Regions from separate parts of the Homo sapiens genome. Here all the other regions are linked to region 4. The links come from fine-mapping of genetic effects on gene expression. A gene starts in region 4. Each other region holds a variant in brackets. All regions are shown on one strand. Distances are between the middles of the regions. Region 1 overlaps FANK1 (fibronectin type III and ankyrin repeat domains 1). Region 2 overlaps FANK1 (fibronectin type III and ankyrin repeat domains 1). Region 3 overlaps BCCIP (BRCA2 and CDKN1A interacting protein). Region 4 holds the start of FANK1 (fibronectin type III and ankyrin repeat domains 1).

What was found. PIP is the estimated chance that this variant, and not a neighbour inherited with it, causes the effect.
Region 1: its variant is fine-mapped to the expression of FANK1 in testis (GTEx, PIP above 0.99).
Region 2: its variant is fine-mapped to the expression of FANK1 in skin (TwinsUK, PIP 0.95).
Region 3: its variant is fine-mapped to the expression of FANK1 in unexposed skin (GTEx, PIP above 0.99). The same link has a PIP of 0.9 or more in sun-exposed skin.

The regions. Positions count from the first base shown.
Region 1 is chr10:125,976,503-125,984,607 of GRCh38, reverse strand. FANK1 (fibronectin type III and ankyrin repeat domains 1) reads right to left here. Exons shown (of 11, transcript NM_145235.5): 2 at 4,270-4,447. Among named protein-coding and RNA genes, the nearest start is that of FANK1-AS1, 7.3 kb to the right of the region's middle. RefSeq lists a silencer at 2,148-2,197. The variant TTCA/A (reference allele first, on the strand shown) is at 4,311.
Region 2 is chr10:125,962,646-125,970,750 of GRCh38, reverse strand. The region is part of intron 1 of FANK1 (fibronectin type III and ankyrin repeat domains 1); the gene reads right to left. Among named protein-coding and RNA genes, the nearest start is that of FANK1-AS1, 6.6 kb to the left of the region's middle. The variant A/C (reference allele first, on the strand shown) is at 3,757.
Region 3 is chr10:125,828,786-125,836,881 of GRCh38, reverse strand. BCCIP (BRCA2 and CDKN1A interacting protein) reads right to left here. Exons shown (of 7, transcript NM_078468.3): 4 at 6,231-6,320; 5 at 5,275-5,462; 6 at 2,936-3,110; 7 at 331-778. The coding sequence ends at 608. DHX32 (DEAH-box helicase 32 (putative)) reads left to right here. Exons shown (of 11, transcript NM_018180.3): 11 at 27-545. The coding sequence ends at 195. Among named protein-coding and RNA genes, the nearest start is that of BCCIP, 9.3 kb to the right of the region's middle. The variant G/A (reference allele first, on the strand shown) is at 4,728.
Region 4 is chr10:125,892,665-125,900,767 of GRCh38, reverse strand. FANK1 (fibronectin type III and ankyrin repeat domains 1) reads right to left here and starts at 4,204. Exons shown (of 11, transcript NM_145235.5): 1 at 4,113-4,204. The coding sequence starts at 4,125. It also overlaps a transcript of DHX32 not described here. RefSeq lists silencers at 3,634-3,928, 4,020-4,159, 4,320-4,399, 4,620-4,699.

The DNA of each region.
Region 1 (8,105 bases), 84 kb before region 4:
CCTGGCCCTTGACATCCCCAACACCCTCCCTGACATCTCGGCTTGGACGTCAGACAGTTTCAAACTGAGCATCTACTCCACCCACAGTCTTCCCCATCTCTGTTATTACAGTTGCTCAGGCCAGACCCTGGGTGCCTCCTGTGGAAGACTGGATTGTTGTTCAGAGACACAAGGTGCCCTCCCACAAGGATTCTATCTACCTCCCCGCCCTGTTGAACTCGGACATGGCTGCATGTCTTGCTTTGAGCAATGAAGTATACACAGAAGTGAAGTATGTCATTCTGGGCAGAAGCTTCAAGAAACAGCATGCCATGCTCTCTCCCCTGCTACAGTGACTGACAATGTTCACGCAGAGGCTGCCGCATGGCCTGGGCTGTGGCAGGAGGACAATGCAGGATGGAGCCCTGGCCGACCCACGGTGGGCATGGTGTGTAGGAGGGAATCACTGCTGCCATAAGCCACTGAGACTGTGACGCTGATGCTTCCAGCAGCATCACTGGGCCTGTGCTGGCTACCACATATCCCTTGACCATCCTCTCTCTCACATCCCGTATCTCACATCCCATATTCGGTCCACCACCAAGTTCTTAAATCCATCTTTAAAGCATATCCTGCATCCTCCCACTTTCCACACTGTTGTGTTGTCTCCCACCTAAACTGTTTCAAAAGCTTCTTCATCAGTCCTCCCTGCTGCTTGCTGCCTGGCCTCCCTACAGCCTGTTCCCAACTCAGCAGCCAGAGGGATCCTCGTAAAACATAAGCCGGATCACACCTCTTCTCAGCTTCACAATCTCCAGTGGCTTTCCCCGCCTCTCTCAGAGTAAGCCAGAGTTCTCCCAATAACCCTCAAGGCCCAGGCAGTGACCTCTCATGACCCAGCTGCCCTCGCCCCCATTATTTTCCTCCTTGTTCCCTCTGTTCCTCAATGCTCCTGGGACCAGCCAGGTACATTTGTACTGCCAGGCTTTCTCACCTGCCCTTTGCTATGTCTGGAAGGTTCTTCCCCCAGATAGTTGCAAGGCTCCAGGTATCCTTGCTTCAGATCTACTCAGAAGCTACCTTCTTGGTGAAGACTTCCCCACCTCTACCCCAGGCCCTCAATTTTTCCTATGCTGCTGCCCCTCAGTATGTATTGCCTGCTGACTACCTATTTTTACTTATGTATCTTATTTATTGTTTGCCTTCATCATCATGAGGGAGGAATTTTTTCCCAGTGCCGTATCCCCAGCATCCGGAGCAGTGTCTGACACACGGCAGACACTCAATAATACACGCTGATGGAATAAATGGAATGCGTGGCATGGGCAGCAACGATCACAGGAATTTAGGGCACAGACAATAGGGTAGTAAGGAGAGCTTCTCAGTGGAGGTAAAATCTGACCAGGGCAGAAGAAAGAATAGGGTGAGAGGGGAAAATCTGTCCAAACAGGGAAAACAACTGAACACACATGCAGAAAACGTCAAGGCATATTCAAAGGACAGTAAGAAATCTGACTGGAGGGTTTGTGCTGAGAAATAAGAGGCAACAAGAAAGGCAGGTGTAGGGAAACTGTGAAAGACATTAAATGTTAGTCTAAGGAATTTGGCCTTTATCCTTTAAGCAATGGAGGACCCACCAAAGACAATGTGACAAAAGAAAGATTAAAATGGAAATTAGCCCAGCAAGATAGAATGATGAGAAAAAAAAAAAAGGAATAAAGTCAACTCCTTCCATCAGAAAATACACTGGGCAGGTGTAGGAGCTGGGGATCCACAAATGAGCTAGACAGAAATAAAGCCTACATCCTGCAGGGGAAAACGCAGCTAAAGAGGGAAAGCACAGAAGCAATTCTACAAATGGAGAACTCAGTAACTGACTGGCTATGAGAAGCCATGGAGGAAAGCCCAAGTCAAAGACAATATCATTGTTTCCAGATAGACTGATGACTGATGGGAACAGAAACTGACAAATCAGGAAGAAGTTCTTAAATCCACAATCCAAACATCAGGTATTCTAGATAACCACTTTTTACAAGAAAAGCATTTGCTAGTTTTAATGCTATGTAGAGAAAGAAATAAGGAAGCAAAAGAGGTCAAGATTAATGCAGCCTAATTCTGCCACCTAGCGTCAAGATTTGTACTTGTAATTCTGTGAGAAACGCAGGCATTTCCCCACTGTCCTTAGAGCAGGGACCACAGATGTCACTGCCAGCCCCACAATGCCAGGCTGTCGTCAGAGTGAGAGTGCGTTCTCCAGCCTGACAGCAACCAGGTCTCTGGGGAGAATGCAGACAACACAGACACACACCTCAGGCTGGAAGCCAGCACACGCAGCTATGGTTTCTCTAGCTGAGGCTGCCTACCTGGCCACCCAGCAAAGGCACAGCCAAGGAAGAAAGAACGATGCAGGATGGCCCCATTCACCTGCCCAACACAGCTTGTGGTGCTAAGGTGATGGGGGAAAGAAAGATGTCTTTTTCTTTCTCAAGAGAAATGTTTCTCATAATTCATGCTTTTAGATAGAAAAAGCATACCTTCAATAAGTAAAACGACATGATTAAAATAACATTTGAGTAGTCAGAACAAGAACTATTTTTACATTGCAACTACATTTCAGATTTTTCTTAAGGTACAGAGAAATTTCTCAAATATCAGATATATTATCACTCAAGTAACAGTTGAAATTGGAGCTTTCATATACAGATTATATACATATTTATAGATATTTATACACACATACACATAAACATATCTATCTTCTCATGTCAGCACTTTTATCACAATGCAAACTTGAGAAAAGGCCAGGAAAGTGATGAACCTGTTCTGCATCTTGACTGCATCAATGCCAATATCCTGACTGTGACACTGCACTATTATTTTCAAAGATGTTACCATAGGGGAGAAATGGGAAAAGGTACAATCACTCTTTCTTACAACTGGATATGAATCTATAATTATTTCAAAATTAAAAGTTTCACTAAAAACCATATTTGTATCTCATTTTTGGTATTCCTGAATCACAAAATAGTCATTTTGCATTTTTCAAGTGGTAAATCTATCAAGGGGAAGAAATAAGTCAGAGATGATATGAAGACTAAGAAGAAAAACATAACTTTTTTTTTTTTTTTTTTTGAGACAGGGTCTCACTCTGTCACCCAGGCTGGAGTGCAGTGGCACAATCATGGCTCACTGCAGCCTCGACCTCCCAGGCTCAAGTGATCCTCCCACCTCAGCCCGGGACTACAGGCATAAGCCACCACACCTGGCTAACTTTTGGATTTTTTGTAGAGATGGGATTTCACTATGTTGCCTAGGCTGGTCTTGAACATCCAGGTTCAAGGGATCTGCCCACTTCAGCCTCCCACAGTGCTGAGATTACAGGCATGAGCCACCATGCCTGGCCAAAAGTGACTTCTTCATTACTCCTGGTGGTATTGGTTCATGCCAGAAGCATTTGGAAGGCCTGCTATATAACAGCCAGCACTGTCAAGGAACCGGCTAGAGCGTTAAGCAGGCAGAAGTCTTATTTGTCTCTCACTGAGTTTAATACTGGGTGAGGAGGCAGGAAAGGAACAAGAAGTAAACAAGTAAACAACAAGGTAAACAAACTAAGCAAACAAGTAAACAAGTAAAATAAGCCCAACAGAGCTAAATGCTATGTGGCATACAAAACAAGGTTCTGAGCTACAGGAGGCCTGCATGAAAGGATGGCTACTTCAGATGGCCTTCTGGGGGCGGGGGGATGTTTCATCTGAGATTGGCATGGTGTGAAGGAACCAGCTGTATAAAAACAGAAGGAAATGTATTCAAGACCACAGCAACGAGCAAGATCCTGCGATGGGAACCAGCTTGGCCTGTCCAGGCTGAGAGGCAGCCAGCGTGGTATAAGAGAGTTGACAAGGGGACAATGGTATGACATGAGATCAGAGAAGCTAGCCAGGGTAGACCATGCGGGGCCATTCCACGTCAGTGAACACAACAGCCTGATGGGAAGCTCACCTAATTGCATCAAGCTATTGTTTGAGTCTGTCTCTACATTCTGGATTTTAAATACATATCATTAAAATATTTCAGAAGTCAAAGAAGCTCTCAAAGGTACAGAGGTTTAATTTCAAAGTTACTGCTAATGCCTATTTTCCAAAAATTGTAATTCATAAAAGAGCATGAATACAAATGATGCTGACTCATTCTTTAATTTGAAACAAGCAGTGGCTTTTTAGAGACAACAGAAATCATTCCAGCTAATCAGGAAGTAAGGCAAAGTGGCAAGCAATTCAACACTGCACCTACGTATAAATGATACCATAAGTGTGCATTTTGGGGTCTTCTTC[TTCA/A]ATCGAGAACCTGAACCACTGCTCTTGAGGTCCTTGGCGTTTGGCTTTCTTTTCCAGATCCCAGTATAATTCAATGCTGTGATGAGTCACTTTGCCCACGACAGGTGGATGAGGCTTTGAGGGTGGCATGATTTCTAAAAAAAAGAATGACACCGAACTTCAGGACCCAGTTTCCATAAGGAAGAGAGACCAGTCGAGTGGATTACAGCTGCTTGGTGATCGAGCTATTTTTCTGAGCATAAGGCACACATATGAGCATACCTCCCTGTTGCTTAAAGAACCCCTGAAAAGCTAAAGAGATACAAAATTCAGCTGATGTGTGAGCTACCACAGTCTTCAACAAGCATATATTGTACCATGCCCATCAATATCATACCACCCCCACTGACCCTTCCAAAGGGCTGCTTAACATATCAAACTAATAAGGTTGTATTTGACCTGCTGGAACTCAGTTTGCTTCTGTAATCCTTCAGTGACTAACAAAGCCAAGAGACAAATGCTCTATCTGATCCAAGTATGTGGAACATAGATGACAAAGGGTTGACACCTATGCTGTATAAACAGCCCTCAGAAACTAACCAGGAATAAAGGCCCAAGGTTAGTAACAAACCTAGCAAAAGATGAGCAGCACACAAAAGAGCAAAAACAAATTGCCAAGGTAATATCTGGAAAGATGCTCATATCATCCCCTAGTGCTCACAGAAATTGGTAACAATGGGGTATAACTTTATATCCAGTCAGAAACTGAAAAAGAAATTTCATAACTATTGGAGTTCACAAGATAGGGAGAGGATATTCTCATGTGCCAGTTGTAGTGAAATATGAATTATCGCCTTTTTAGAGGGCAATATGGAAGCATCTATTAAAATTAAAAATACACATATCCCTGTCTCACCATCCCACCCCTGGAAACTTCTGCAGAAATCAGAGCATAAATACACACAAGAGTGAGTGGCCAAGATGGCTGACTAGAAGCAGCTGGTGTACCTGACTCTCACGGAGAGGAACAGAAGGGGCGAGTGAATACAACACCTTCAACTGAAACAGCCAGATACTCGCACTGGGACTAATCAAGGAAACAACCTGACCCACAGAGAACAAAGAAAAGCAAGACAGGACAATGGCCCCCCGGGGGTCAGCACGGAGCCAGGGGATACTCCCCTGCCCAGAGAAGCAATGACCGAATGAGCGACCCAGAAACCATGCTTCTCCCACAGATCTTTGCAAACCTCAGGTCAGGAGCTCTCCACGTAAACCCCTCTCTACCAGTGCCTTCAGTCTTCATTCTGACAGAGCAGCGTGGAGTCTTGGCAGAGCAGCCGCTCAGGCACGCGTGGAGACCCTGGAGCCTTAGCTACTCAGGCTTTCCAGCAAAAGTAGCCGTAGCTCTGGCAAAGTGAGAGGTTAGACTCCTGTACATACACTTAGGAAAGAGGATGAATCCAGGCAGCTAAGCAGCAACAGCCCCCACTTCCACTGCACCTCACGAGATAAGACCCACTGGCTTGGAATTCCAGCCAGCTACCAGTAGCGGCATTGCACCACCCTAAGAAGGAGCTCCCAGGGGGAGGGGCAGGCCACCAGCTTTGCTGTTTGGGCACCTTAGCCATTCTAGCTTTCAGGCTTTGGAGAGTCCGAGCCAACACAGGGCAGAAGGGATCCCCCAGTACAGCATAGCTGCTCTACCGAAACGTGGCCGGACAGCTGCTTTAAGCAGGTACCTATCCCGTTCCCTCACTGGGCAGGACCTTCCAACTGGGGCCTCTAGCCACCCCTGCCCGAGCTGTCCATCTGACAGATGGACATTGAATTTCCCCTGGGATGGCACTCCCAGAGGGAGAGGTAGGCCACCATCTTTACTGTTCAGGTGCCTTAGCTGTTCCAGCCTTTGAGCCTCATAGTATCCGAGGCGATCAGGGGCTGAAGCGGACCCCTAGCACAGCACAACTGCTCTCCCAAAATGTGGCCACTTTTTTAAGTGGGTCCCAATCCCGTTCCTCCTCACTGGCCGGGACCTCCCAACCAGGGTCTCCAGTCACTTCCTACAGGTGCCTTTGGGCCGACACCAGGTCCATACCTCCCTGGGACGAAGCTCCCAGAGGGAGGGACAGGCTGCCATATTTGCTGTTTCTCAGCCTTCACTGGTGACACCTCCAGGTTCTGGAAAATCTGAGGTGACTAGGGACTGGAGCAGGCCCCAAGCATACCACAGCAGCCCTATGGAAAAGTGGGCAGACTTGTCCATATCTCCTCACTGGACAGGTCCTCCAGGCCTGGGCCTCCAGCCACCCCCGCCAGAGCTGTGGAGCCAGTACCAACTCAGCAACTCCCCGAACAGAGCCTCCAGGGGCAACTGAAAGCCTCTCTGCCACTATCTCAGCAGTGGAACTGCCCTTGCCACCTTCAAACTAACAAAGGAGCAAAGACTCTAAGAGTACCTTATCTACACCTCCAATAAGCTACAGTCGACCCAAGGAGAGGCAGCCAGTCTGTCTCCTACAGGTCCCACACCCACTCTCCCCAGCATGGCTCATCACCAGACAGGGAACCCCTGGCTTGGGCACACAGCACAAACCCTACATCTTGGGCTGACTGCACCAAGTGATTGCTGACCCACATCTCTCTGAGGTGGAGCAAGCAAATAACCCCCGGCCACAACCCCTGCTAAGATCTCTTCCTCTGCTGCCTCTAAGCTGAGAAAGGAACATAAACACTGAGATCACCCCAGAGCTGCAGTGGGCATCCCAGGAGTGCCAAGGAGAGCCAGCACTCAAGTGGGAGAGGAACACACAGTTTCAGAGCACTGAAAGGGAGCATGACGGAAACTGTGAGGAAACAGGGGAGCCACGCAACCAAACAAGAGTCTAGCAACTGACCAATTCACCTAAGCGCCACCTACTGGATCACACCCCAAAGCTTCAATACCAAAAACACCTCATTAACATACCCCCCTCTGAAACCAGAGACAACAAGTAAGCTTCAAATAAAGACCCTACATAAAGCATCAGCCCAGTGAAAACATCCAGAAAAGAAGTCTGTTGACCGTACTCAATCTACATTAAAGGAACACCCACACTCAGATGAGAAAGAACCAGCAAGAACTCTGATAACACTCAGATGGCCAGAGTGTCATACGCCCTCCAAATGGCCACACCAGTTCTCCAATAAGAGTTTGTAACCAGGCAGAACTGGCTGGAATACAGAATATGGATAGGAACAAAGATCACTGAGATTCAGGAGGATGTTGAAACCAAATCTAAGGAAAAGAACAATCACAGTAAAATGATATAGAAGCTGAAGGATAGAATAGCCAGCATAAAAAAAAACCTAACGGGTCTGACAGAGCTAAATAATGCAATATGATAATTTTATGACCGGGCACAGTAGCTCACTCCAGTAATCCCAGCACTTTGGGAGGCTGAGGCAGATGGATTGCCTGAGGTCAGGAATTTCAGGACAGCCTGGCCAACATGGTGAAACCCCGTCTCTACTAAAAATACAAAAATTAGCCAGGCATAGTGGCAGGCACCTGTAGTCCCAGCTACTCAGGAGGCTGAGGTAGGAGAATCGCTTGAACCTGGGAGGCAGAGACTGCAGTGAGCGGAGATTGTTCCACTGCACTCCAGCCTGGGTGACAGAGCGAGATTCCGTCTCAGGGAAAAAAAAAAAATTTACAATGCAATCACAAGTATTAACAGCTGAATAAACCTAACTGAGGAAAGAATCTCAGAACTTGAAGACTGGTTCTCTGAAATAGGACAGTCAGACAAAAATGAAAAAATAAATAAAAAT
Region 2 (8,105 bases), 70 kb before region 4:
GCTCACTGCAACCTCCCTGCCTGATTCTCCTGCCTCAGCCTGCCGAGTGCCTGGGATTGCAGGCGCGCGCTGTCACGCCTGACTGGTTTTTGTATTTTTTGGTGGAGAAGGGGTTTCGCCGTGTTGGCCCGGCTGGTCTCCAGCTCCTGACCTCGAGTGATCTGCCCACCTCGGCCTCCCGAGGCGCCGGGATTGCAGACGGAGTCTCGCTCACTCAGTGCTCAATGCTGCCCAGGCTGGAGTACAGTGGTGTGAACCTCCACCTCCCAGCTGCCTGCCTTGGCCTCCCAAAGTGCGGAGATTGCAGCCTCTGCCCGGCCACCACCCCGTCTAGGAAGTGAGGAGCGTCTCTGCCTGGCCGCCCATCGTCTGGGATGTGGGGAGCGCCTCTGCCCGGCCGCCCCATCTGGGAGGTGAGGAGCGCCTCCGCCCGGCCGCCGCCCCGTCTGGGAGGCAGGGGGCGCCCCCGCCCAGCAGCCGCCCCATCTGGAAGGCAGGGGCGCCTCTGCCTGGCCGCCCCCTCTGGGGGGTGGGGGGCCCCTCTGCCCAGCCACCACGTCTGGGAAGTGAGAAGCCCCTCTGCCCGGCCGCCACCCCGTCTGGGAGGTGTACCCAACAGCTCATTGAGAACGGGCCATGATGACGATGGCGGTTTTGTCGAATAGAAAAGGGGGAAATGTGGGGAAAAGAAAGAGAGATCAGATTGTTACTGTGTCTGTGTAGAAAGAAGTAAACATAGGAGACTCCATTTCGTTCTGTACTAAGAAAAATTCTTCTGCCTTGGGATGCTGTTAATATATAACCTTACCCCCAACCCCATGCTCTCTGAAACATGTGCTGTGTCAACTCAGGGTTAAATGGATTAAGGGCAGTGCAAGATGTGCTTTGTTAAACAGATGCTTGAAGGCAGCATGCTCGTTAAGAGTCATCACCAATACCTAATCTCAAGTACCCAGGGACACAAACACTGGGGAAGGCCACAGGGTCCTCTGCCTAGGAAAACCAGAGACCTTTGTTCACATGTTTATCTGCTGACCTTCTCTCCACTATTGTCCTATGACCCTGCCAAATCCCCCTCTCCGAGAAACACCCAAGAATGATCAATAAATACTAAAAAAAATTTAAAAAAAAAGAAAAATTCAAAAGCTGATCTTTTTTGCTATTTATTTAACCATGATGTTTATATCCCTATCTGTATTTATCTGTTATCAGTACAAACACTCTTGAGAACTGTTTTTATAGATGCTCTATTCAAGTTTTATAAAACAGATACAACACACCCACAGATACACATTCATAGACACAACTTACATGCTACTTTTTATACAAAAGTTTTAGAACTATTTTTTCTTGGTCATAAGTAAGTCTCAGATCTTTCAAAAGGTACTTTTTTTTTTTTTTAAGTCTGATAACCAGCATCCAAATTTAACCAACTAATTTCATCACAAAGTCAGGCTTTAATTTTATTTTAACTTTTCTAAAGATTTTGTTTTCTAAAAAATTTTCTAAAGAGTTTGTTTTCTAAAAAAAGCAAAAAGAAAAAGGAGACCTTATGTTCAATTTTCAATGGTTCTTTCAAATAATTGGTAGGATCTTTTCATCATGACAAATATTTCTTATTTTAAAAGTTTCTCAAATAATGAAAAAGGAAGAACAACAGTAAAACTACAAGAAGTACCTCAAAAGGACGATTATGAGAATTTATGGATGTGTTACGTACCATAAAAGCTTTTTGTAAGAAAGTTCTTATGCAAATCTGACAAATAAAACAATTTTATGCCTCTGGTGCCACTTGTCAAGTAATAAATGGGAATATAGAATAATAAAGGGCTTCATACACTGTCGCCACTCAGTCCCTATGGTTACTCAGAAGATGGCATAAAACATGGCTCAAGTACATCAGAAACCATAGTAAAAAGGTATCACTCACAAATTATAGGTTTGAACGTAGAAAACTATAAAATTTATGTAAACCACTACACAATATTAGGCTTAGCATCCTACATTTTTTAAAAGGATTGTAAAAGAAATGCACCAAGAGGAGACTCAAAAAACAAATTAGTAAAACAAAAAAAATCAGATTATTCAGCATCTTTATGATAAATAGTTGACCATATCTCAAAAGCTACAGAGAGAAGTGGTGATCATACACTGTATTGGAATTTGCAATTGTGATTTGTATCATGAAAAGTGGGAAATGATAAAGAAAAAAAACAAATATAAATATATTCACTATATAAAAACAGAACACCTTAAAGCAGAATTGTAGTTTCCCTGCTCTTCCAAAACTCATCTGAAAATTTACCGAAGTCAAATTTCACTGGCAAGGGGCATCTGCAGTCTAGCCTCCGGTGGCATATGGTCCACAGTGAAGATGACTGCACACTGAGGGGGATGCTATATGAGAACAGTGGTGGCTGTCACCTCAAAGCAGTTTATCATGGCTTGATCAGATATTTACAGCAACCATTAATCAAAAATACGTTCTAGGTCAGGTGCAGTGGCCAACCAACATCTGTAATCCCAACACTTTTGGAGGCCAAGGTGAGAGGATCACATGAGGCCAGGAAGAGACCAGCCTAGGCAACCTAGAGAGACCCTATCATCATGCCACTGCACTCCAGCCTGAGCGAAAGAGCAAGACCCTGTCTCAGAAAGAAAAAAAAAAAAGAAGAAATTAAAATAACTGTAAGGTACCATTTTACCTATAAAATTATATGAAAAACATGTAATGGTAATAATATTCAGTGTTGTTTAAGACTGTGATAAAACCGTTTTAGATTGAGCATTACACTGTATATTACACAATTCTTTAAAAAAACAATTTGGCTGTATTCAAAAATGGTTGTAAGATCTCCTACTTTGTGGTCTCACTTCTAGAAACACATTCAAGAAATAAATTCAGAAATCAAAAAATAAATATAAAAGCTAAAATGTTTTTGCATTGTATGTGCTTTTATTTTTATTATGAAAAAAGTTTCTGTCTGGGCATGCTGGCACATGCCTGTAGTCCCAGCTACTTGGGAAGCTGAAGTGGGAGGATCAGTTGAGCCCAGGAGGTTGAGGCTGCAGTGAGCTATGATTGTACCACTGCATCCCAGCCTGGGCTACAGAATGAGACCCTGTCTCAAAAAAATAAATAAATGAATAAAAATTTCAACATAAAAAGTAGAACGAATAGTATAGCAAATCCTCTTGTATCTGTTACCCAGCTTCAATTATCAGCACAATTAGGGCCAACTCTATTTTACCTAGGAGTCCATCCAACATCCCTGCCCAAACCTGGGTTATTTAATAGCTAAGTTTTCACAAGACTTTGTATGAGTGTTCTAAACTCTTTACATATACTATTTAATCTTCACAACAACCTTATAAACTGCTATAACTTTCCTCCTACCTTTTACCTGTAAGACTGGAGGCACACAGAGGTCCCATAATTTGCCGGGGAGTCCATGCAACAAGCAGCAGAGCCAGGATTCAAACCCAGGGAGCCCAACTCCAGCGGCGTGCCCTTAACTTTCCATGTGCTATCTACTACTGCCCTATGTTTAACTACATACACACATGCATAAATCACAACAAAAAATAAAAACCAGAGAGGAACACTTTAATACCACTGACAGCAATGAAAACTAATCTAAATGTCCAAGAACATGGAATTTGTTAGATACACTTTGGTACATTATTTATATACAAGAATATTTAGTCATTAAAAGTGTGGAAGATGATATACTAAGGAAAGGGTACGAACTTACA[A/C]AGATGCTATGATTATAATGGCATAAAATGTACAGATGCACGCAGACAGAAGAACTGAAAGAATTTAGAAAAACAAAAGACAAAATAGTAGCATTATGGCTGATTTTTTGGTATTATTTTAAGCTGGTATAGTACTGAATAAAGGGGGAAAAAACAAAATGTAACTGAGCACTTTTACTTATTCTTATGGAAAAAAGATTCAGCTAAGACAAACTACTAGCCTAGACTCTTCCTTGCTGAGCTTATACATATATGATAGCAACAAGTCTGATAAAAATAAACCAAGAATAAGTCAATGTGGATGCTTCAAAGCATGAGACACTTCAATTACACTCTGGCTCAATTTATTGACCATTTTGGTGTCAAGCAGATATCCTGCTTGACATTTATTTCCAAGGAAAAAGTTTACTTACACCCATTCATTCAGCACACTTGTGGGATACCTCTCCTGTGTCCTGAGGGCACAGGTGTAACCAAGATGACCAAGAGGGAAGGGCAAAGAGAGGAGCAGGGAACATTGGACACCAAACAAATACAAACCAGGTGCATGGGGGAGGCAGGTGCAGAGGGAGCCTACAGGAAGACGTGTTCAAAATGCATATAGTTTACATATATTCTAATCTGGGAATGAGGTGCCTTAAGTGAGGTCTCGGGATAAAGAGGCAAGTCTGGCAGAGCCTGCAGGCAAAGAATACATCATCTAATGAAAACATTTCAATATACTTAAATTTTCTTATATTTTTTATCCCAAAACATTCCTTATCCTTTAAAAGTAAGTAACGTAAGTGCAAACTGCCCAAAAGTTGCTTTCCTCTACTTTGCTAGTAAGTTCTTCAAGGGCAAAAATCAGTTCAAACATCAAAAACCAAATAGCAAAAACAATAAAAGACAAAACTCCCTAGAGTAGTAATGGGGAAACATTGCTTCCTTTTGTGTCTCTACCATGGATATTCCTCATCAGGAAAAGTGGGGGATAAGTAAGGATACCTGTCCTGCCTCCCTCTCAGATTTACTGCAAACAAAAAAATAATGTGACAAAATACTGAAGTGATTTGAAATGTATAAAGGACTTCACGAACATAAGGTAGTGATAATGCCTTTGAAAGTCACAATGCTCACCTATTTCACACTTTTAACTACAAGGAAACCCTGCTTGGAGTTCTATATGGGTAACAGGTAGTAGGCAAAGAAGGAAATGTACTTCCCAAGATATTTCCTTTACTTAATTACAACAACTTCAATTTACTGCAGGCTTGCTCTAAGCAAAAAATCATACAGGACACTTGGTCAACAACGGATTCAACCTCACGATGATGGGGTGTTCTCAATTTATAGATGAGGACAGAGAGGAGGAGACCAAGGCTCAAAGAAGTACAGCAGCCTGTTCAAAGCTACAGAACTGATAAGTGGAGAGCAAGGATTTCAATCCAGATCTCTAACTCCAAAATCTGTGCTCTTTCCCCCACAGGCTGTGCCTGGTATGGAGCTCCTGAGATCTTCTATGGAAATGCACACTGAGTGTGTAAAATGACAAAGTCTTTCACAATCAGATAAGAAAAGCCAAATTGTTATATATATATTCTTTAGACACAGTATGTCACAAGTCTAAAATATATTCACAGTAAGAAATGGTAGGATACTTTCACAATAGCAAAGTGTTCAAATGGATCAGCTTATATTCACTCTTAAGAAAAATGTGCTACTGAAGAATATGACCAAGCAATTCAGGAGGATTGCCAGTGAAACCTACTCAACCTCACTGAAAATCAAAATGATGCAATTACAATGATGACATTTTGCATTCATCAAGTTTGTTTATTTGTTTATTTATTTATTTAGAGACGGAGTTTTGCTCTTTGTTGCCCAGGCTGGAGTGCAATCTTGGCTCTGCTCGCCACAACCTCTGCCTCCCGGGTTCAAATGATTCTCCTGCCTCAGCCTCCCAAGTAGCTGGGATTATAGGCATGCACCACCACACATGGCTAATTCTGTATTTTTAGTAGAGACAGGGTTTCTGCATGTTAGTCAGGCTGGTCTCGAACTCCCAACCTCAGGTGCTCCGCCAGCCTTGGCCTCCAAAAGTGCTGGTCATCAAGTTCATTAAATCTAAAATCTGCCAATAGCAGTGAAGAGGAAGAGTGGAACACTCTCAAACTGCCAGTAGAGTATAAATTGGGAAATCTCTTTGGAAAACAAGTTGGCAAGGCTAAGTTGAGGTTGTGCATTCTCTATCATCCTGCAATTCCACTCCTAGGTATGGTCCCTTACATGTGTAAGAATGTTCATGGCAGCTTTACATTTAACAGAAATGGAAAACTACTGAAATGGCCAGCATGAGAAGACTGGACAAATTATGAATAATCAAACATTAGCATACCATATAGCAGTTAAGACTAAAGTTAAAATTAATTGGGGCTAAATATATCCATGTGAATAAATCGAGGGTAAGGTCGAATCACAAAAGAAAGTTGTAAAACGTTATGTAGAGAATGATACAATATAGGTCAGGTGCAGTGGTTCACACCTGTGATTCCAGCACTTTCGGAGGCCTAGACGGGTGGATCACTTGAGGTCAGGAGTTCAAGACCAGCCTGGCCAACATAGTGAAACCCCATCTGCACTAAAAATACAAAAATTAGCTGGGCACGGTGGCGCACACCTGTGGTCTGAGCTACTCAGGAGGCTGAGGCAGGAGAATCACTTGAGTCCAGGAGGTGGAGGTTGCAGCGAGCAGAGATTGAGCCACTGAACTCCAGCCCGGGTGACGGAGCATGACTCCATCTCAAAAAAAAAAAAAAAAAAAAAAAAGAGAGAGAGAATGATATAATCTACATAATATTTGATTAAAACTATATCACAGACAGAGGAAGAGGAAAAATAGGATGAAAGAAAAATAATTTTGTCAGCAATGATTTGTTTCTTAAGCTAAGTGGTGGCATGTGAGTATTTTACATATTTTATGTCTGAACTATTTAATAAAAGAACAAAGTACTGCATACATGGATATATTTCTCTCCTTTTTTTTGTCTTACCCTTCTCCCAACTAAATAGGTATCCAGGTAAGCTGCACTGCAAAATTATCTTAAAATGTTTTTTTTTATTATTATACTTTAAGTTCTAGGGTACATGTGTACAACGTGCAGGTTTGTTACATATATATACATGTGCCATGTTGGTGTGCTGCACCCATTATCTCGTCATTTACATTAGGTATTTCTCCTAATGCTATCCCTCCCCCCTACCCACACCCCATGACAGGCCCCAGGGTGTGATGTTCCCCTTCCTGTGTTCAAGTGTTCTCACTGTTCAATTCCCACCTATGAGTGAGAACATGTGGTGTTTGGTTTTTTGTCCTTGCGATAGTTTGCTGAGAATGATGGTTTCCAGCTTCATCCATGTCCCTACAAAGGACATGAACTCATCCTTTCTTATGGCTGCATAGTATTCCATGGTGTATATGTGCCACATTTTCTTAATCCAGTCTATGGTTGGACATTTAGGTTGGTTCCAAGTCTTTGCTATTGTGAATAGTGCCGCAATAAACGTACCTGTGCATGTGTCTGTATAGCAGCATGATTTATAATCCTTTGGGTAGATACCCAGTAATGGGATGGCTGGGTCAAATGGTATTTCTAGTTCTACATCCTTGAGGAATCACCACACTGTCTCCCACAATGGTTGAACTAGTTTACAGTCCCAGCAACTGTGTAAAAGTGTTCATATTTCTCCACACCTGTAATCCCAACACTTCGGGAGACCGAGGCAGGTGGATCACCTGAGGTCAGGAGTTTGAGACCAGCCTGGCCAACATGGTGAAACCTCATCTCTACTAAAAATACAAAAATTAGCCGGGCATGGTGGTGGGCACCTGTAATCCCAGCTACTCAGGAGGCTGAGGCAGAATCGCTTGAACCCAGGAGACAGAGGTTGCAGTGAGCAGAGCTCACACACCACTGCACTCCAGCCTGGGCGACAGAGCGAGACTCCATCTGAAAAAAAAAAAAAAACCACAGTAATAATAATAATGTATCAACATTGGTTCATTATTTGCAACAAATGCACCATATTCATGTAAAATGTTAATAATAGGGGAAAATGGGTGCAAATTATGTGAGAATTCTGAGAAATATATTTGTACTTTATAAATCTAAAATTTTTATAAAAATAAATTTTTCAAAAATCACCAATATGCAAGGAAACGAAATAACAGTAACAGAAAGAAAAAAATCAAGAGAAATAAACCCAGAAATGACATCTATGACACAATTAGTAAACAAATACATTATCCTGTCAGTACACTGTCTTCGAGAAGATAAAAACATGAGCATTGTAATATTTTAAAAATACTT
Region 3 (8,096 bases), 64 kb after region 4:
CTCATCTTTTTGTCTTAAATAAACAGATTTATGCAGCTGGTACCACAATACTATTTCAGTAATCTGCCTCCTAGTGAAAGTAAGGACATTCTACAGCAAGTAGTGGATCACCTATCCCCTGTGTCAACAATGAATAAGGAACAGCAAATGTGTGAGACGTGCCCTGAAACTGAACAGAGATGCACTCTCCAGTGACTCCCCAGCAAACACAAGGTGCAGCAGGGTCCCAAAGGTAGCTGGATGGCTGAACTGCTGGATATGGGAGATACATGACGCGAAGACGGATTTCACATCCACAGGACGGTCTTGAAGAAAATAACACTGTGTATATTATTTTAAAATAAAAAATAGAAGTTTTTATTGAGTTCTTTAAATTACTACTCCATGCTTTTCTTCTTCTTGGAAAAGTTTTTAAATCAACCACTCATAATTTGACCAAAATTTTAAAAAACTGGTATTTTGTAAATGTGTCAGAGACACATGGGACAGAACCCTACTTTTTGTAGAGGAACTTAATCTGAATAAAGTCTGAGTTTTTCAGTAAATCTCCACTGAGTTTTCTGGTAATTTTACAAAAACAAGCCCATCACTGTCCATTGGAAATGGGTTAGACAGATAGATATTCTTTCAGTTTATCCATGATTTCGTTCATCTTGTCGCCTGGAATTAACATCACAGTTCGCAAGGGCGTCATTGGTACGTCATCAAAAGACCATTTGCCTCCCAGACAAGTGTCGCTCTCCTCCTGCACTGAGTAGTTGAACTTGAGAATTGCCTTCTAAACCAAATAAGTAACCATGAATTAAAAATCGGGACAACCCAAAGACAAAACCCATTTGATCTACGGCAAAGAATATTACGTTTGGCATATGCTTAAATAAGAATGAGAGCTAAAAAAAAGCAAAACTCAGAATTGAAAAAGTTCAAATGGGACATTCAGGCAGAAGTTATAAAACACAAACCAAGTAGATTTTAAACCCACATGAGGAACAGGGATAGAGGTGTGCAATTTCTAAGAGGTGAACAAGCAGCTAAGTGGTATTTTCATTTAATTGTCAAAATAATCTTGTGAAACATAATGAAATTAAGACTTGTAAAATTTGATATTTAACAAGAACTTGTCTTCAAACACTCTTTTCTCACTTTCTCAGCTGCTTCCTTAGCATCAGGCTTTTGTGTGAAGACAGAGTAAATCTGCATACCCCGCCATCTTAAAACACCCATACACACTCCCCCCAAATGGTCAACCTGAGGTGTTGAAGCATATGGTTTTGTTTTTTTTGTTTGTTTGTTTTTTTTTTTTGAGACAGAGTCTCACTCTGTCACCCAGGCTGGAGTGCAGTGGCGTGATCTCGGCTCACCGCAAGCTCTGCCTCCCGGGTTCACACCATTCTCCTGCCTCAGCCTCCCAAGTAGCTGGGACTACCGGTGCCCACCATTGTGCCTGGCTAATTTTTTGTATTTTTAGTAAAGACAGCGTTTCATCGTGTTAGCCAGGATGGTCTGATCTCCTGACCTCGTGATCCGCCCGCCTTGGCCTCCCAAAGTGCTGGGATTACAGGCATGAGCCACCGCACCCGGCCTATGTTTTTTAAAAATTATGTTTACTATTTACTTCCTGGAAAAGAAGGGCACAGCTAAATTTGTAGCGCTTTAGTCTTCTGCAGAAGTCTTCAAAGTGATGTGATATCATCCAATTCAGGAAAATATGTTCCCCTCAGAGATACACTTCAAGATTTTTTTTTTTCTGAGACAGAGTCTCGCTCTGTCGCCCAGGCTGGAGTGCAGTGGCGCAATCTCGGCTCACTGCAAGCTCCGCCTCCCGGGTTTATGCCATTCTCCTGCCTCAGCCTCCCGAGTAGCTGGGACTACAGGCACGTGCCACCACGCCCGGCTAATTTTTTGTATTTTTTAGTAGAGACGGGGTTTCACCATGTTAGCCAGGATGGTCTCGATCTCCTGACCTCGTGATCCACCCGCCTTGACCTCCCAAAGTGCTGGGATTACAGGCGTGAGCCACCGTGCCTGGCTCAAGATGTTTTTGTGTTTTTTGTTTGTTTGTTTGTTTTTGAGACGGAGTTTCTTCCTTGTTGCTCAGGCTGGAGTGCAGTGGCGCGATCTCGGCTCACTGCAGCCTCTGCCTCCCAGGTTCAAGCAATTTTCCTGCCTTAGCCTTCCGAGTAGCTGGGATTACAGGCATCTGCCACCATGCCCGGCTAATTTTTTTTTTTTTGTATTTTTAGTAGAGATGGGGTTTCTCCCTGTTGGCCAGGCTGGTCTTGAATTTCTGGCCTCAGGTGATCTGCCCGCCTCAGCTTCCCAAGGTGCTGGGATTACAGGTGTGCACCACCGCACCTGGCCCACTTCAAGATTTTTCAGAGGAAGAGAGGGTAAGAATATTCTCTGGTATATGGCTGTCCATCACAGTACAAGCTACCTTTATAGGAAAAAAATGCTGGAGATATCCCACCAGCAGGATGACATCCACGACTAAGGACACAGAGCAGCAGGGGTGCCCCAGCTTCCACACTGACCAGCTGTGTGATCGCAGGTAATTTCCCTCATTTCCCTATGCCTTAAAGTCCACATCTGTAAACCCCAGGCTAATGTCTACCTCTCCGCATGGTTTTAGAATGAAAGATTTCACAGGAAGCATATTATAAATGCCTAATCATTCTTAACAGGTTAATCACTTTTCTCCTCCTCCTCCTCATGCTCATAACCACAGTGCAGGCAAGGAGGCTGGTGCCTAGCCTCCTGAGTACCTACTATGCACCTGGCACTATGTTAGCTGCTAGGTCCTGTGGGGAAACAGAAAAACAGAGTAGCCACACTTGAAAGACTTGGACCTAAAGTGGGAGAACAATAAATCTTGATAAATCATTTTCAAGAAAATCCTTATTTACATCTAAACAAATAAGCAGGATAGTCTTACCTCATAGAAAAATTCTTCCTCTGCATTTGCAAACATTAACGCAGCTTTCTTTTTGTTGCTAGGTTTCTTTTTGGAATTGTTTTTTCCTGCTTCCACAAATGTCTTACTAATCAGAAGGTAAAAGTAGCACTTCCCACATGGCTTATTGGTTCTGTGTGCCCCCGCCAGTTCTTTCCTGCAAGGCACACACACAACATTTGTTTACCTGCTGGGTCAAGTGAAATCCATCAACAAACCAGAGCACAGAAAACCCGGTGAGGCATCTTCAGTGGGTTCTGCTGTGACGCAGGCATTCAATCTGAACACTTAGTCTACAGGAATGATTTTTATTTACATAATCAGTTGCATTTTAGATTATGTATTACTTTTTATAATACTATGATATATCTCTCAGATTATGCTGATTTGTGGATATATAGCAACTAACAGATCAGATGAGTCTCAAATTCACTCAATGTATCACTGCTCTGCCTGTGCATAAGTTAAAAATATATACGAATCTGAATTTTTGAATTTTTTAAAGCAATGAACATTTAACTGAAACACACAAAGGTATACAGCCACAACCAATGTCACTACAGCCTGTGACTACTACCACAGTCTCTAATTGCTAGAGTCTGGAACTAATTTCTGACATACTGCAGAAACTGCATAAACACACAACCTAAATTCTAGCAATGGAATCGCAACAAAGCCTTAATGTTTCTTCTTTCTGAAAATTAAACATAGCCTTGTGCATCTGGATGCCCTTGAACAAAAGAAGAAACTCAGAACAACCGTCCTCTTCAGCTTTCCTTTTTTTTTTTTTTCTTTTTTTCGTTTGGAGACAAAATCTCACTCTGTTGCCCAGGCTGTAGAGTACAATGGCACAATCTCGGCTCACTGCAACCTCTGCCTGCCAGGTTCACACGATTTTCGTGCCTAAGCCTCCTGAGTAGCTGGGATTACAGGTCTGCACCACCATACCCGGCTAATTTTTTGTGGGTGTATTTTTAGTAGAATTGGGGTTTCGCCATGTTGGCCAGGCTGGTCTCAAACTCCTAGCCTCAAGTGATCTGCCAGCTTCGGCCTCCCAAAGTGTTGGAATTACAAGTGTCAGCCACCACACCTGGCCTTTTCAAAAAAAAAAAAAGAAAAAAAAAAAGATAGGGTCTTGTAATTTTGCCCAGGCTGGCGTGCAGTGGCTATTCACAGGCACAATCATAGTATATTGCAGCCTGGAACTCCTGGCCTCAAGCATTCCCCCTGCCTCAGCCTCCTGAGTAGCTGCGACTACAGGCGTGCACCACTGCGCTTGGCTCACTTCAGCTTTAACAGGACTAGGAGAAAGCAAATCACCCTCCTATAAAACCAAATAAATGTGAGCTCCAGCTGATCAGAAAAAAAGAAAACCAAAAAAAAACAAAAACCACTTAAGGCACCAGAAGCACAATCTGAGCTACAGCTGAGAGAGCAGGGAGCAGGAGATAAGAAGCATCGAATCCCTAGGAAAAAACAGCAAACGTAAAGGTTTCCAGAGTAGAGTTGCATTCCTACAGCTATTTAAAGGAAAACCACAACGCAAGGGCTATGACCTCTGAGAAAGAATATTCTATAAAGAACCTGTCTAGGTCAAGTGCTGTGACTGACACCTGTAATCCCAACACTGGGAGGCCGAGGCAGGAAGATCACTTTAGCCTAGGAGTTCAAGACCAGCCTGGGCAATGTAGCAAGACCCTGTCTCTACCAAAAAAAAAAAAAAATTTAAATTAGATAGAAATAAATAAGAGAATCTGCCTATATTTTGTCCTCT[G/A]TTGCAAAGCACAGACAATACAATTCTTAGTACACTCAGTTTGCTAGATTTCACAGCTACATTTGAAATATTTTTGTAAACTTAAAACTTCTGGATTAAAAAATAGAATAACAAAAACCCTGAAAAGCTAGCCACAGTATCAGGACTATGGTTTCATTTGTTATGAAACATACCAATAGAATTTGGGAACTTTACCAGTTTTGTTATTGTTGTAATTGTTCATTATTTTATTCATGTTGCAGAAAGCTATCTGTGAAGGTGAAAAACTTCAATCAAATGGGGATGCAAAGTCTATATGAAATTATCTACTTATATATCACTTAAATCTTAAGTTAAAATTTCATGATTATTGTCACAAACTCTTCAAAAAGCCAGTTGTTAATAATGTATGTACTTCACAGGATGTTTCTTCCACTCCCCTCACACTAAACCCACTTAAACCAAGGACAGAACTCTTTCTATATCTACATATTCTACTTAAATGACATTTAGGAATCTATTTGAAAAAAAAATTACTGTTCAAAGATATTTTCCCAGAATCTCTTACTGAAGCTGCTGGTACATGGGCAGAGCGATCTGTGGAGGGACATTAATGAATCTTTCACTTAGGAGAAGGCCCACAGGCTTGGTGGTGTCATTTAAAAACTTGTCCAGCTGTTCAACCATGCTCTTTTCACAGTTCTTCTCACAGAAGCGTAGAACCAACTCTTGAATTTGTTCAACACACTGGGTACCCTAGAAAGCAAAGAGAAAGCTTGTTTCCTATTACAAGCCATCACATAGAGGACAAAACCTGAGAGTAAAAGCTATCACTTTTCATCTTACAGCTAAGGGCAGTTTCCTGCCATAGCCTTAACGTCTTGTATGTCTTCAGTGTTGACTGCTTAAGCATTTCTCAAAAGTAAATACACTGGTTATTTACCATCCCATGATGAGTGGTAAGAGAGTCATAATTAACATTCAGACACACTGGAATGGCAACTCTAGTCCATCTCATAAAGATAGATGGAAGTAACTGGACAGTTTATTTCAAAATTAAAGACTAAGTGTAGCCTGCATCTTATTCTGAGGTGGGTAAGCAGCTGGTTTACTTTTTATTACAACTCATCAGAGAATCAATAAAAAGAGATGAATCGAAACAAAATAAAATGTCAGTAAATGCCCTCAACATTGAGGCAGCAAAGCCTGAGAATATCCCCACTACACAAGTAGCAAAGATAACAGCTGCAGAGAGACAGCACAAACAGCTCCTGCATCAGTACCAACATCAGGACTGCAAAGCCAGATGATTCCCTAAACCACAGGGAGTAAACAACTTTAACTGGGTACAGACCCAACACCACCACCTTCATATTGAAAAAGGATTACAATAAGATTTCACAAGAGCACTTATCCCTATAGTTAATATCACTGTTTAACATAAAAGACATTTTCACCATGCATTAAATAAAAGTGGTTTTGGCCTAAGAAATAACCATTCAGATGCCATCCAGTGAAACCAACCTTTCTTTCAGTTAAATTTAAAAGGCTTATGAAACCAAAAACCTCATCTTCATCCATATCATCATTGCTGTCTTCTGAAACATCCGTTTGCTATTTTAAAAGAAAAAATATTTAAATGTTATATTTAGTATAATACCAAGAGTATAAAACCAAGTCTTGGGATGTAGGCCTCATTTATCTTTTCACTTTTCAAAAGCAAAACTTTGTTTTACCACCGCCATCTTAGAAAGCATTGTATTTTAAATACTGTCACAGTTTTACCACCATCATCTTGGAAAGCATTGTATCTTAAATACTGTGTGACCTTGTTCATTTCGCTTTACCTCGACTCTGTTCCTCTTTTCAGATTCTGAACAGATTGAAATTTCTTTGTACCAGATTAAGTCATTTTCTTTTATCAGATTCTCAATATAATACAAATCCAGAAGAGATAAACCTCATGAAATAAAGCATTTTCATTTGTTTTCTACACAATTAGGCTGGAGCCAAGCCTTGCTTCTCTGCTGGCCCACAGCATTGTTTCATCTAAAACTCATGAGTTTCCAGAACACTTGTCAGTCTTGACCATTAGTGAAGCTAGGCAATGCTTGAGGGCCACTTACACCTATCACATTAGCAAGAGAGAAGGGGAAAAAAGAGAACCCCCTGCCCTTTGTTCTATGATCCTAGGGACTGGCTCCACCGAACACTATGGGTAGTCCCTTTACTAAGAACAAGAAGTCTCTATCCTCAGGACACCTCAAGTGTCTCTGGAGAATCCCAAGAAGCCACAGTTACAACTGCAGAGCTATTGATGTGATTATCCATTTAAAGAGTGAATCCTGCCATTAGATAATAACCTCTTTCAAGGATAAAAATAACTGCTTCTCCTCCATATCCATTAGGTCTTCTAAGACACGAATCAGCTAGAGATCACATTTATTTGATGAAAGGGCAGGTGGTCTGCTTTTTCCCATTGCCCTAATAAAAGGAATGCCCCATAGGTTTAATTTCTCATTTTCTTTACATTGAGTGCCATAAAGTTACTAATATTGTCAGAAGCCTTGAAAAGTGTACACTGTATTTAGTAACAAGTATGTTGGTGACCCTATCACTCAGTGTCCGAATTTTAGTGGTGTAAAAGTCAGATAAGAGTGTCTGAAGAATGAATAGGAGGACAGGAAGTAGAAACCATGACTTAAGATTACTTTTCAAGAATTTTGGCTCTGAAGGTGATGTACTTAAGAGTGGAACATTAGACTGAATGGAGCTTTTGTTTGTTGTGTTTTTCACAACAGGCTAGGGAACAGGTGCTAGGAACAGGAAAAAGACATCAACAGTGACAGCTACACATATGTAGCACATGTCAGCTGCCAGACACTGTTTTAAGCAGTCAGCAATTCATTTTGTTTACCCATGCACTCTACAAGATCGGTGCTAGTACCATCCTCATTTTCAGAGACAGAAATGGAAACAGATTAAGGTACTGTGGCAGACTGTATCTTTCACAGATGGCCCCAATGGATCTCTCCTTGGACATGCTCTTCTGACAAAGTGACCTAGGTACTTTTCTCATGGAGTGGTGGGATCAATGTGCCCTCCCCCTAGATAGAAATTTCTATCTGTAAAGACTAAGCAAATGGTGGAAATGGCACTATATCACTTCTGCCTGCTTCTTTTGGGCAGCTTGCTCTTGGAAGCAAACCAATGTGTGACGAGGCCCACATGGAGAAGAACTAAGGCCCCTGGTCCAGAGTCCCAGCTAAGCTCCCGACAGACAGCTAGGGCTAACTTGCCAGTCATGTGAGTGAGCCATCTTGAAAGGGAATCCTCCAGCCCCTAGTCAAGCCACCCCAGCTAACATGATGGAGCAGGAGCACAGATGAG
Region 4 (8,103 bases):
AGACAGGAGAATCGCTGGAACCTGGGAGGCGGAGGTTGCAGTGAGCCAAGCTAGTGCCACCACACTGCAGCCTGGGTAACAGAGTGAGACTCCGTCTCAAAAAACAAAAAACAAACAACAAACAAACAAACAAAAAAAAACAGAAAGAAACGTGTAGCAGAAAACTGCTGCCTGCTGGATTTTTAAAATACATATATATAGCAAGAGCTTACAGAACAGGTAGCACCAAGTGGGAGCCGGGGGGCTTCTCTTGATGCTGCATTTGATAAATATACAGTTTTTACTCAGATTATATGTTTGCTTAGATTTGGGCTAAAGATCCCCAAAGCCACCCCTTGGTATTAAAACTCATTAAGAAATTAAGGAAGAGATAGTACTATTGAACTATTTTCCAAAAAAAGAAAAAAAAAAAAGGACAAAAACCCAAAACAAATGGGAAGTGATGTACGTTTTCCATGTTATTTTATACATGAGCTATCTTTCCAACACTGAAGTTGGTTTAGCAAGAAAATAATTAAAGACGTCAATGTGCAAGCCAAGAGCCAAAACCACTCTCAACAGCCCAAGGTTGTGAACGTATTTAATTTGCCCTTTCCCTGGGAAGTCATTTCTTGGATCATTGACTTACTATTATTCTGTAAAACAGTGGTAGCCCCTGCCTTCCTCTGCTTGCTGCCAAGAGTATGATCCAGCTGTGGGGTCTGAAGAGTTTATGTTTATTGGATTTTAATGACTTAGTTAACAAAGGTCATTCCTAAAAGTAATAGAAAACTAAGGGTGTGGAAACAGAACGGAAAAGACTGACTCGAGGGTTATTTCTAGTAGTTCCTTGGTGTTGTCCTTAGATACATGTTTAATCCTTAAAAGCAATTATGAAGGAGTCTTCCTCATAACCAATTTACTGATGCTATATTCAACTACACTTGTAAAATGTTATTTTAGACCTCTCAGTAACAAAAGGAACAGGGTTTAAAATATGTTAGATAATATCGGCATAAACAATGTACTGTTAACATAATATTGCTGACAGTATAACTGTAATTCACTGTAATACTTGATGCCACGTCTGTAGTGCTTCCATTATGGCTGACAGTAGGAAATAACTTCCGTCTCAGGTGAAATCTGGTTGGATACAAATCTCCAAGTTAAAAGAAACCTCAAAGATCATTTAATCTTGTCCTTTTAAATATTTAGTAACTGTGAATGGTAGTAAATATTTATCCAAATTATGTTTCTTAGACTGTAAAAGAATTTCCAGGCTGGGTGTGCTGGCTCACGCCTGTAATCTTAGCACTTTGGGAGGACGAGGCAGGAGGATCACTTGAGGCCAGGCGTTCGAGAACAAATTGGGCAACAAAATCAGACTTTAGCTCTATTCAAAGTAAATAAAATTAAAAAGAAAATTAGGGGCCGGGCACGGTGGCTCACGCCTGTAATCCCAGCACTTTGGGAGGCCAGGGCGGGAGGATCACCTGAAGTTAGGAGTTCAAGACCAGCCGGACCAACATGGAGAAACCCCATCTCTACTAAAAATACAAAATTAGCCAGGCATGGTGGCGCATGCCTGTAATCCCAGCTACTTGGGAGGCTGAGGCAGGAGAATTACTTGAACCCGGGAGGCGGAGGTTGCAGTAAGCCAAGATCACATCATTGCACTCCAGCTTGGGCAACAACAGCGAAACTCTGTCTCTAAATAAATAAATAAATTAGCGGGGTATGGTGGCACACACCTGTAGTCACATCTAGCCAGGAGGCTCAGGTGAGAGGATTGCTTGAGTCCAAGAGTTCGAGGGTGTACTGAGCTATGATCGCACCACTATACTCCAGCCTGGGTGACAGAGCAAGACCCTGTCTCAAAAAAAAAAAAAAACAACAAAACTTGAGCTAAATGGTGATTGAATTATTTAAAATTAAATTGATGAAATAATTTAAGAATATGTGGAAAGAAAGAAATTTACAGTCATTCCTCAGGTATAAATTAAATATTTTCCACCTCAAAATCCAATGACATGAGATATAAATGTATAGTTCACATAAGTAATACATTTCTCACATGGTTACAGAACCTTTCTGATCAGGCTCCGGTTGAATTTTCCAGCCTTATCTCATTTCTCCTCCCTCCTTCCAACCCTGTTTTTTCCTCCTCCTCTCCTTAGCTACAGCTTTACTAATCTTCCTACCGTGAGCCTCAAACCCACGCTGCTCTCAGGTCTCAGGGCCTATGTACAAGTAATTCCCACTGCCTGGAATCCCTTGCCCTCATTCTTTGCTGGGTCATTCTGCAGACCCAGTACTACTTCCTCTTGGGAGCCTTTGTCCATCTCCTCTTCCCCCAATCTCCGAACCCCACCAAGACCTCAGGAGTTCTTGAGCAAGCCTCTGCTTAGTTTTCCTGGGATGACCAAAACTAACACTGTCCGATCCGTTGTTCAATCCTCAATCCCTAGAACAGAGCTGCAACATAACAGGCACTATAAATGAATGAATGGATAAAGACAGCACTGAAGAACTTGAAATTATAGTTTACACATGAAAACAGTAACATAAATCTGAAGAAATAAAGTTCTTTTTTTTGTTTTTTCGAGATGGAGTCTCGCTCTGTCACCAGGCTGGAGTGCAGCGGTGCAATCTGGCCTCACTGCAACCTCCGCCTCCCGGGTTCAAGCGATTCCCCTGCCTCGGCCTCAGCGTCCCAAATAGCTAGGACTCCAGGCACGCGCCACCACACCTGGCTTTTTTTTTTTTTTTTTTTTTTTTTTTTTTTTTTTTGTATTTTAGTAGAGATGGGTTTCACTATGCTGGCCAAGATGGTCTCAATCTCCTGACCTCGTGATCCGCCTGCCTCAGCCTCCCAAAGTGCTGGGATTACAGGCGTGAGCCACCGGGCCAGGCCAAGTTGCTGTTTTTAAAAGGTATATTTCAACTCACTTCTCTAAGGCGGGAATATACACAGCCTGCCATCAGTTTGACATAAAACAAAAATTTTAGCGTTCTTGTATGCTAAATTTCTTTTACTAGGTTAAAAAAATGTAGAATCCAAAGAGCTGTAAATGCAAATGACAAATACTGTACAAAATCTATCAAGCAACTATAAGTCACAACTTGCAAGCTTTCTCCTCAGCAAATGAGTTAAAAGGAAAAGTATTTGAAACTTTCTTGGTGGAAAACGAATGACCTTTAAAAATGCCAACATTTTCCCCAGAGAATAGATTTGGTCTGAGTTCTTCATTTCTGAAATTGTACAAGATAAGACGACTTGGTTTGAGAGTCAAACTGCATCCTTCTATAAAGGTTTTAGATAAATTTTAAGTCTCCATACAAAACACTCCCCTTATTTTGAGAACAAAAGGAACAATAAGACAGCTTAGGCGGGGCAGAGAAAGAAAGGCCTTGAAACAAAGTCCCTGGAAAGGTAAAAACAACAACAAAAATAGTAAGTTAGAGCTCGTGTTTAGATCTGATAACTCAAAACTGCACAACTTTTGCCATACATCGAAAGCAACATGGGAAAACAGAAAAAGAGATTACAAACATTTTTTGAGTGTCCTAACTTGTAGAACCCCTAAGAATGAATCAAATACACTTGGACAAAGCTCTTCTTTTCTCTCTCTCTCCTTCAAGTCGCAGACTAGGGGTGTGGGGCGGGGGGCGGGGAGTAAGACGGGGTCTCTAATAAATACAAGACCCAGCCTCGGACGTGTTTAATTGCTGACATTTTAGAAGAAAAATGGGCTACTTACAATTAATGAACCAAACTACCAAACTAAAATCATGAGTAGGAGGAGGAGTAAATGGAACCGTCCGGGCGAAGTTTCAGGAAGACGCACGCTGGGGTCGCTGCGCCCTTCCCCACCCATACCTCGGGGCTCTCCAGTCGCTCCCAGCCCCCAGCGCGGACTCTAGGGCGCCGGCGGCCCAACCATACAGACTTGGCAGGATGTAGCCCCCTTCTCCCCTCTCCAGGAGAGAAAAGCGCGAGGAGACGCAAACCGTATTTCCGTGTCCGAGCGTTGAAACCTGCGGAGTCGCGCGCGGGGCGCCCACACTCGTTCCCGGGGAGCCCCAGCCCGGTCGCCCGCCCCGGTCCCAGCTCCAGCCCGGGCCTCCCTTACTCTGGGGCTCCATGGTCGGCTGCTCCCCGGCCTCCGCGGGCGAACCCCCGGACTCCTAACGCCTCTCAGCCAGGGCCGGCGTCGCTACGGTTGCCCTGACAACCCGGAGGCGAAGTGGGCAGAACTAAAGGGACGGCGAGCGGGAGGGACCAAAAGCCGCAGGAAGTGAGGGAGCGCGTGAGGACCCGCGCGTCGCCGGGGACACTGAGCGAGGGTAGCGGCCAGGTCACCGGCTGAGGACACTGCTCCTGAAGCCCGGTCAGGCGGTCGCGCCCTCCCTGGCGGCCCCCGCGGCCCCGCAGGACCTGTGCCCCGACGTCGCCGACCCGCGGTCCCCGCTGTCGCCGACCCGCGGCGTCCGTCGGGCGAGTGGGCCTGCCCGCGGGTAAGGCGCCGGCCCTGGGCCGCCCTCCCGGGAATCGGGAGCCGCCGCTGCAGGTAACAGCGGGGCCCCGGCGGCGGAAGGGGTCGGGGGTCGGCGCAGGGGCGGGCGCGCCCCGAGCCGGGTGGGCGGCCCCGGCGCACCTGTTGTAGCCGCCTGGGGGTCCCCTGCCCGCAGTTGGCCGTGGACGTTCCCCGCCCCGACTCCGAAACGCCGAGGGCGGCCTCCGCGCCTCCTGCTCCGGGAGCCGCGCCTCAGCGGGAGGACGGAGCCCTGCGGGCAGCCCTCGCACCAGGGGCTCCCTCCGAGCCCGGGCATGGGCCGGGCCTGGGGCGGTCCCTCGAGCCCCCCTGACGGGAAGCGTGGAGCAATGCGAGCCGCCGCCGTCGTCGCTGTCGTCCCCAGTGAGCCTGGCGCGTCTCCTGAATCGCGAGAGCCAGGAGCACGGTTTTGCCCGGCTTTGCCCCGTCATCCCCGTGTCCCATTTCAGGCAGGGGGCCCGGGTTGGATCTTTCTCGCTGGCTTCGTTTTTTGTGTGTTGATTTGTTTCAGTCCTTCGCGTTTCCGGTTGAGTTACGGAATCTGCCCACACGTTTTGTGGCCAAACTTTGTAGGGCTGTGAAACAATGTAACATTATCCCACACAATAGTCTTTCATACTGGTTTTAAAACACAGTGATTCAGGGTTTGCTTTAAGGAAGCTTTGAGGATCACAAGAGATTATTATCTGGTAGGTTGTAAAAATTCAAACAACCAGGAGAGTATCATAGGTTCCGGAACACCAGAAGGAGGAAAGAAAAATGGAGACGAGAGAAAAAGGATAAGCAAGAAAGTGCAGGGGCATTAAGGGTGTGGGGGGCTGCAGGATTGATTTGGTATTCAGGTCTGGAGATTATGGCCCCTCTATTAATTCCAACCGCTGCTCCAGACAGTACTTGAGGGAAATGGAAGGAAGAGCCGTTTTGGGGGTCATGGAAGTGATTACTAATCTTGCCAGTAGAAAGATTTCCACTCCATGGATGACAAGGACACTAAGGAGAATTACTTTCCTCTTAGGGAATCATTGAGAGGTTAATTGAACTTGAGAAGCATATATTCTGTGATGGAAACTGACATTTATTATATTCTTCCAAATTAGGTTTTCCCCCTCTCAGACTATATGGGGACTTTTTCAGATTAATTGTCAAAACAAGAAGGTTTATGTGTGGATATTGACAAGCAGCGTGATATATACAGAACACATAATTCTTAAGCTGAAGTATTAAGGTAATAAATTAAGGGTGGAAAGTAAACACTTCATGGAACCTTAACTCCCTGTTCCTGAAATTTAGAGACAGGGGCTTCATTTTTAGACAGAAAGTATAAAGATCAGCAGTACTCCTGTATCCAGTGGTTCTCAAGTTCTAGTTTACATATCATTAGCAAAATCACAAAGCGGTCTTTTCATTCAAGATACAAATAGAGTGATCAGTATATCATAATCAAAAGTGACAAGATAGTGATTTAAAAAACACCTGGCATTTATTGACAAAAGAAAAGGTAGGATTAAGTCTGCTCAAACAGTAAAGGATTAGCATTAGTATTTTTTTAAAAAGAAGAAACAACAGTGCAGGTCTCTATGCTAAAGTAATAAGGACTGAAGAAGTTTTAAGTTTGGAAAAAATGGGGATATGTATTGGTGAAACACTTTGTAATCATATAGAATGATTATTTTATCAGCAGCTGTTAAGTTGACTTTGAGGAAATTTTGAATTGAAATACTTTAGGTGACAAGTAAAGGCAACTGTGAAAAGCAACATTTGATTTTAGGGGACAGGGTACCTGTGAAAGAAGACTGGTTAGGAGTGGAAGTCAGGCGTAAAGGCACTGAAATGTCCGAGGCAGGGACAATATTCAGTTTCTCTTCCTCTATCACCTTGTGCAATGTACCTGTTAAATGTTTGTTGAATGAGTGAGAAGGGCTTTAGAGAAATTGTTTTGGATATAGGGATACACTTTACTATTGGAGAAAACACCCGAGATCAGAAAGTTGCTAATGAGATAGGGGTGGGGGATGAATGGTAAAGACACTCTACCTTTTTGGAGTTTTCTACCATTGTGTTTTATTTCTTTTCACGGGCATGTTCAGTATGTTATTAGTGGTCAAATGAAAAGGAATAAAGTTCTATATATATTTTTTTAAGTCTCCAAGCTCATTACTAGATAGAATAGTTACATTATTGTTTACTTTGCTGATGTTTAACTAAATGTAGCAAACTGAAGCATTATGGATCGGGAATAACAAAGTAACAATGAAGAGACAGATGTAGTCTTTTTCTTATTTAAATCTCTTGACTACCTCAGAATTCAAAGTAGAAATAACTTTAGTGGGAGGTTAACATTATTTAATGCAAATAGGTTGATAAAAAATGTAGCAAATGAACATGTTATTAATAGTTCTGTCTTCTAGCCTTACTGTGGTAAGTTGAAGGAAGTTTTCATTTTTGTTTTTGTTGGTTTTAGGGTTTTTGTTGATTTTTGTTTTCTTTACCAGAGTGAGGGTACTTTTTTCTCTATCTGATACTTTCTGAAACTCTTAGGGAGTTCTGTCAAAGGTGGAAAACAATCAATTTCTATTTTTGGTGTTTTCCTCTTTGTTCTCCAAACTTGTCATGGTCTACATTCAATTTGTTGCACTCAAATGGAATGTCTATCTCTCCGCCCTTTACTCGTCCACAGTCTAAAGGACACTGGCCGGGCGCGGTGGCTCACGCCTGTAATCCCAGCACTTTGGGAGGCCAAGGCAGGCGGATCACGAGGTCAGGAGATCGAGACCATGCTGGGTAACACGGTGAAATCCCGTCTCTACTAAAAATACAAAAAATTAGCCGGGCATGGTGGCGGGCGCCCGTAGTCCCAGCTACTCGGGAGGCTGAGCCAGGAGAATGGCGTGAACCCGGGAGGCGGAGCTTGCAGTGAGCCGAGATTGGGCCACTGTACTCCAACCTGGGTGACAGAGCAAGACTCCGTCTCAAAAAAAATAAAATAAAAGTTAAATAAATAAATAAATAAATGGGACTGCAGGAGCATGCTGCCCCAGTTTCTGGAAAGTCTTTCAGGATTAGGCTAATGCCCACTAAATGCACTTCGCTCTCCTACTGGGGGTGCTACACGGTTTAGCATTTAGCTCTGTAGGATGCTTTCCTATAGAATTTTATCTCATATGGATGGATCTTGTACCTCTGACTGGATTAAATATGTTTGGAGCTAAGTGCATGACTTACGCTTCTTCTGTGTTGCTTTTAGCACATGGTGGTCTTCATTGTGTACCTGATAATTTAAGTAGGGTAATAATAGAGAGGTCAAACCTTTAGTTAGGGGTCATTGCATTAATTTCTAGCTTTGCCCTTTTGGAAAACCAGAAGCTATTATTTTGTCATTGATAACTTGGGATAATAAAACCTGCAATGGTTGTCTGATAGTCTAGTTGTGAGAATCAAGATAAATGTGATTATAGATTATGAATGAAAATATCTTGTATGTCGTAATGAACTTTTTTAATATAAAGGGCTGTTATTGACTTAGGCATAGAGCAGACATTGATTCCACATTCACAATGTGTTAGGTACT